2 separate regions of the Homo sapiens genome follow, and region 1 is linked to region 2. Evidence: fine-mapped expression QTL. A gene starts in region 2. The other region holds a variant in brackets. All regions are shown on one strand. Distances are between the middles of the regions.

What was found. PIP is the estimated chance that this variant, and not a neighbour inherited with it, causes the effect. A credible set is the group of variants that fine-mapping cannot tell apart.
Region 1: its variant is the best candidate, but not a certain one, in a credible set for the expression of KLHL24 in blood mononuclear cells (TOPMed, PIP 0.55).

The regions. Positions count from the first base shown.
Region 1 is chr3:183,667,151-183,670,058 of GRCh38, forward strand. The region is part of intron 5 of KLHL24 (kelch like family member 24); the gene reads left to right. Among named protein-coding and RNA genes, the nearest start is that of YEATS2, 29 kb to the right of the region's middle. RefSeq lists an enhancer at 1-72. The variant T/C (reference allele first, on the strand shown) is at 1,620.
Region 2 is chr3:183,634,332-183,637,239 of GRCh38, forward strand. KLHL24 (kelch like family member 24) reads left to right here and starts at 1,292. Exons shown (of 8, transcript NM_017644.3): 1 at 1,292-1,462. LOC107986162 (a long non-coding RNA gene) reads right to left here and starts at 2,278. Exons shown (of 2, transcript XR_001741042.2): 1 at 2,204-2,278; 2 at 1-1,953. RefSeq lists an enhancer at 1,138-1,197 and silencers at 1,618-1,727, 1,738-1,807, 1,998-2,317, 2,368-2,697.

The DNA of each region.
Region 1 (2,908 bases), 33 kb after region 2:
GGCTCACACCTGTAATCCCAGCACTTTGGGAGGCCAAGGTAGGTGGATCACGAGGTCAAGAGATCGAGACCATCCTGGCCAACATGGTGAAACCCTGTCTACTAAAAATACACAAATTAGCCGGGCATGGTGGTCCGCACCGGTAGTCCCAGCTACTCGGGAGGCTGAGGCAGAAGAATCGCTTCTGGCGGAGTTTGCAGTGAGCCAAGATTTTGCCACTGCAGTCAGCGTTCTGTTAGGAATCTAATTGCACAGCAGTAGGTGAGCAGCCACTGAGCGAGCTTTACCGCCTCAACTCCACCTCCTGTCAGATCAGCGCACATTAGGTTCTCATAGGAGCATGGACAGCACATATGAGGGATATCTAGGTTGTGGCTGCTTATGAGAATCTAATGCCTGATGATCTGAGGTGGAACAGTTACATCCCCAAACCATCCCATCCCCGACCAGTCCCCCACCAGCCCCCCACCCAGACCTGTGGGAAAATTGTCTTCCATTAAACCGCTCCCTGGTGCCAAAAAGGTTGGGGACTGCTGCGTAGAATACTAGAGCTTCTCAAAACAGTTTATATATTTTTATTTTTTGAGATAGGGTCTTGCTGTGTTGCTGAGGCTGTAGTGCAGCAGCACAGTCATGGCTCACTGCAGCCTGGACATCCTGGGCTCAAGTGATCCTTCTACCTCAGCCTCCCTAGTAGCTAAGACTGCAGGCACACACCATCACACCTAATTTTGGTATTTTTTGTGGAGATAATGTTTTATCCTGTTGCCTGGGCTGGTTTCAAACTCCTGGGTTCAAGCCATCCTCTTGCTTCAGCCTCCCGAAGTGCTGAGATTACAGGCATGAGCCACCATGCCCAGCTCAAAACACAGTTTAAAAGCTGTTAATTCCTAACGACCTGGATCTAGTGTGCTGCTGCTGTCTACAAGGCCAATGAAATAATGAGGACCTTGAGACAGATTTACTGGAAATAAAATATTAATAGAATCTTTTCTAAAACCATTTGGTTTGTTAGTACTTACTATATTATATATAGTGTTTGAGGCTGTGCCTCAAGAAGGACAAAATATTACTGGAAAAGAGGGGCTAAAATAATCCAGGGGTTGGAAGGAGATGCTGATACAAAGGCAAATGAAAAGTACTGATGTCTCAAAAACCATGTATGTATTGGTAAACTCAAATTTATTTGACAAAATAGTGTACTTGACTTGAAGATACCCAAAGCTTAGAAGCACTAAATCAATAAAGAAAAGGAATCATTCCTACCTTACACAGCAAGTACTCAATTCATGGAAGTCATTTTGCTAAAATTACAATATAGATTTAATTCAAGCTTATAAAACATACTTAAATTTATAAATACTCTGTTTAAGGAAACCTGGGATGGTTTAGAATATAGAATCTTAGGGGAGCACTCCCCAGTGTAACTTAGAAGTGTGTCTTAGGCTGCAATCCTCAAGAAAAAATAAAAAATTACCGGGTGCGGTGGCTCACGCCTGTAATCCCAGCACTTTGGGAGGCCGAGGCAGGCAAATCACAAGGTCAGGAGTTCAAGACCAGCCTGGCCAACATGGTGAAACCCTGTCTCTACAAAAATACAAAAAATTAGCTGGGCATAG[T/C]GGCGGACACCTGTAATCCCGGCTACTTGGGAGGCTGAGGCAGGAGAATCACTTGAGCCTGAGAGGCAGAGGCTGCAGTGAGCTGCCTGCTGCACTCCAGCCCGGTGACAGAGTGAGACTCTGTCAAAAAAAAGAAAAGGAAAAAAATCTTAGAGTAGGAAGGGATGATGGAATAATGGAGAATATTTAATATAACTTGGTCATCTTATAAATAACCCCAAAGAGATCAAGTCACTTCCCAAGATTACACAAAAAATGATAAAGCAGAGGCAAAAGCTCAGACTTTTCTTAATCTAGAGGCCTTTTGTCTTGATGCTCATGGCATGTATTATATTTTAATTTACACATGTAGGAATACGTATTAAAGTTTAATCCTCAAAATTATGCCATGTGATAGATACTATGATTGTCTACATTTTAAAATTGAGGAAATATAGCCAAGCATGGTGGCGGGCACCTGTAATCCCAGCTACTCAGGAGGCTGAGGCAGGAGAATCCCTTGAAGCCAGGAGGCAGACATTGCAGTGAGCTGAGATCACGCCATTGCACTCCAGCCTGGGCAACAAGAGCGAAACTCCGCCTCAAAAAAAAAATTATAAAATTGAGGAAATAAATTTGAGTCTCCAAAAGGGTAGATAAATTGCCCTTACATTGGATGGCAGAGCTGGTGATCAAAGCCTGTGCCCTTAATTGCTACATCGTGCCACAGGTTCCATACTCCATATAGCTGTGTGGACTTTTGTAAGTTACTTAACCTGTCTGAGCTGCATAGTGTTGGGGACACAAACTCACCAACAGATTATTTTAACATAATGTGAGAAATGCATGATAGAAGTGGCATTGAGTACTGTGGAAATTTGGGGGTGCACAGAAAGATAAATTGTGGACAAATTTGAAGGACAAGTTATGAAATGTGGCCTTGACCCTTAGACATTCATTGTTGAAATATTAAGAGGAACTGATAAAGTATTTTAGGAAGAATAATCTGTGGTTTAGAGAGAACAAGAGTGGAGGCCAGGAGGTTATTTGAGAGGAATGAAATGTTGTGGACCCTCAAGTGGGTGATGGCAGCGGGAAACGTAAAGGAAGGGGTATATGTGAAAGATGCTGTGGAAGAAGACTCAGTGGGACTTAATAGTTAATTAGCTATGGAGGGAAGAGTTAATGATGACAGTCCATTAAGAGAAATGTGAGCTGGGCGTGATGGCTCACGCCTGTAATCCCAACACTTTGGGAGGCTGAGGCAGGAGGATGGCTTGAGAGTGGGAGAATGGCTTGAGGCCGAGAGT
Region 2 (2,908 bases):
ACAATGAATAATAAATACATGGTCTCATTAGCGTAAACATTAATGATTTAACCAGATTATGAGAAGGATAGCTTCCTTAATAGGAAATAGTCATACATTATTTGGAAATATATAAATACCAGAAGAAATAGCTCAAATAATTGAATAAGAGATGGAAAAGAGGCCTAAAAAGTATGTTTAAAAGGCCTGTATATAGGCCTTCCATATTATTTCCGCCTCTGGTCATCAGAACACAACGCCTAATTTAATAGAGGCATGACGGTATTCATGACATGTAGAAGATAGAGATTTTTAAATTTGGTATCAGAAACCAAAAACTAGTTAAATGGTTGCAATCATCCTTTAAAAGAATACCTGCAGGCGGGGCGCAGTGGCTCATGCCTGTAATCCTAGCACTGTGGGAGGCCAAGGCAGGCGGATCACTTGAGGCCAGAAGTTCGAGACCAGCCTGGCTAACACAGCCTCTACTAAAAATACAAAACATTACCTGGGCGTGGTGGCGGGCACCTGTAGTCTCAGCTACTCGGGAGGCTAAGGCGGGAGAATCGCCTGAACCCGGGAGGCAGAGGTTGCAGTGGGCCGAGATTGCGCCACTGCACTCCACCCTGAGTGGCAGAGCGAAACTCTGTCTCAAAACGAAACAAAACAAAAAGCTTGCAGACACAAAACGACAACACAATGTCCTTTAGGAACTCCATCTACCTTGGAAAACAGGGATTTGTGACAGCTTTGGTCGACGTGCATGTGCGTTTAAAATAAAAAGGTAACCTAGGATTTGATACCAGGGACAGTAACAGCTTTATCAAAAAAAAAGAGGTGGTTTTCCTTGCTCCTTCTAAGGACTGGGGTTTTAGTCTCGTCCACCCTGCAGGCCCTCAGGCCTGATTTCCGATTGTCTATCAAAGGGTCAAATAAAAAGCTCTCTAAGCTTCGACCCAAGCTTTAAAGTCGAAGGGCTGATCGCGGGCTTTTTCCTTGGGACGTGGCAGGGGCCTTTGAGGGAAGGAAAGAAACGACTCTGGCTTCTCACTCGGCTCCTTACACAAGAGGCATTTTTTTAACTGTCTCTGCTTAAAACAAGGTGTTTTTGAGTCAGCAGCCCTTTGGGTGGGTCTCGTCCTCTTGGGCACCCGACACCCACCCCACGGCGGGAGCCCCAGGTGGCCCCGGAGGCCACCGGGAAGCGTGAACTACATCTCCCAGGGTTCCCCGGGGCGGAGGACGCCCACCCGGATTGGCCAGGGTTCGCTGACGCTCAGTGTTTTGGCCCGGACGGTCACATGTTTCCTTTGTTGTGAGCTGCGGCAGAGACTGGTGGCTGGAGGAGACGCCGGCGCTGGAGAGTGCGCTGCGCCGCCCGCCGCTGAGGGACCGCGGGGTTAGCCACTGCTGGCTGCTTCCAGTGTTCGCCGAGAGGTACCGGGGGTGACAGCTCCGGGACCGGCCGAAAGGCGAGGAACCGGTCAGAGTCTGAGTCCTCGGGGGCGGAGGGGCGACGGCGGTCCTGACCACCGGGGTGTCTGCGGGAGGGCAGCCAGCGGCGGCCGGCCTCTCAGAGCCAGACTGGCGGTCTGCGGAGAGGCTGCAGCTGGGCTACAGGGCCCCTTTCTGAGGCGAGGGGCCTCCAGGGTTCACCTGGGGGGTCTTCCTCCCCCGCTTGGTAGCTACAGCCCTGAGGGAGGGCGCGCGCGCCTCCTGGCACTACGGCCCGGAACCGCGGCGCGGCTGGTGCGGCCTGGCTAGGGCGGGGTGGTTGCCGGGACTGGGGGTAGCCGCAGGTGCGGTAGGCTAGTCGCCGCGGGGCCGGGCGCCGCCGGGGGAGGCGGCTGGGCAGACGGGTGCTGCTTGTTGCCGATGGGCTGCGAACGGGGCGCTGCTTTTTATTTCAGGAAGCCCGGGGGAGTGCGACCGCCTCAAATCCAGCCTTCTTGTTTGGTGGGACGACCGTCGGTTCTGTCCGGGAGGAATGACGGGGTCAAGGTGGGGTCCCCAGGGCCGCGGGCCCGTGAAGCCCCATTAAAGCGATTGCGAAATGCACTCGGCACTGTCACCTGACCGTTACCCCCGCCCCCGTCCCCTGCGAGCCTTTGTTTACCACGATCGCGACACCCGGCCCGCTGCGGCCGTCCCCGGGGAGCCGGGGCGGGCGGGGGAGCGGGCGTTCCGCCGGCGCAGTCCCCGCCTAACCTCCCCACCTTCTTACCACTCCAGGACTCAGTTTCTTAATTTAGTTCCTAATGGACCCGCCCTCAAGTTCTGGACACCCCGGGTGAAGACTGTTAACGCGGCGGGGATTGGGCGCCTGCGGCAGCTTGTGGGCGGTACCCGAGGGAGAGTTCGAGTTTTTATTGGCGAGTTTTTATTGTCACTAGGTGGGCCTGCCCTGGGCCATTCTTCCCGCCCCCTTGAAGGTGATCTGGAGGACGCGCGGGAGCGCGCGCTGTCGCTGCTTTTGCAGCTGCGGCCCGAGTGGAGCCGGGTGGCGCGGGTGCGGGAGGCGCGCGCTCCCGCCCCTGCTGCGGGCGGCTGGTAGCCTCGGTGGCCGCCGCCGCCGCTGCTGCTGCCTGATCCTGCAGGCAGTTCTGGGCACGCAGAGATCGGCTACCGTGGCCTGCCCTCCGAGGACCGGAAAATTAACACCCTTTAACTAGTGTCGCGTTATCTGCCGGGTGGTTCGCAGGAAGTCCTGCGAACACGTTGTTGCCAGTTCTGTAAACGTGTTTAGATAGCTAAATATAGATCACAGTGCCACATCTTAGGGGGCCCCACGGTCACCCCTGAGGCAGTGGCTGTTCACAATTGATTTTAGTGGATTTTAATGATTAATCACTTGCTCTTGTGGGCAGCTTTTCAAAAATCACGTCTTTGTATTTGCAGCTACAGACTGGGTCCACCAGCTAAGAGGTTG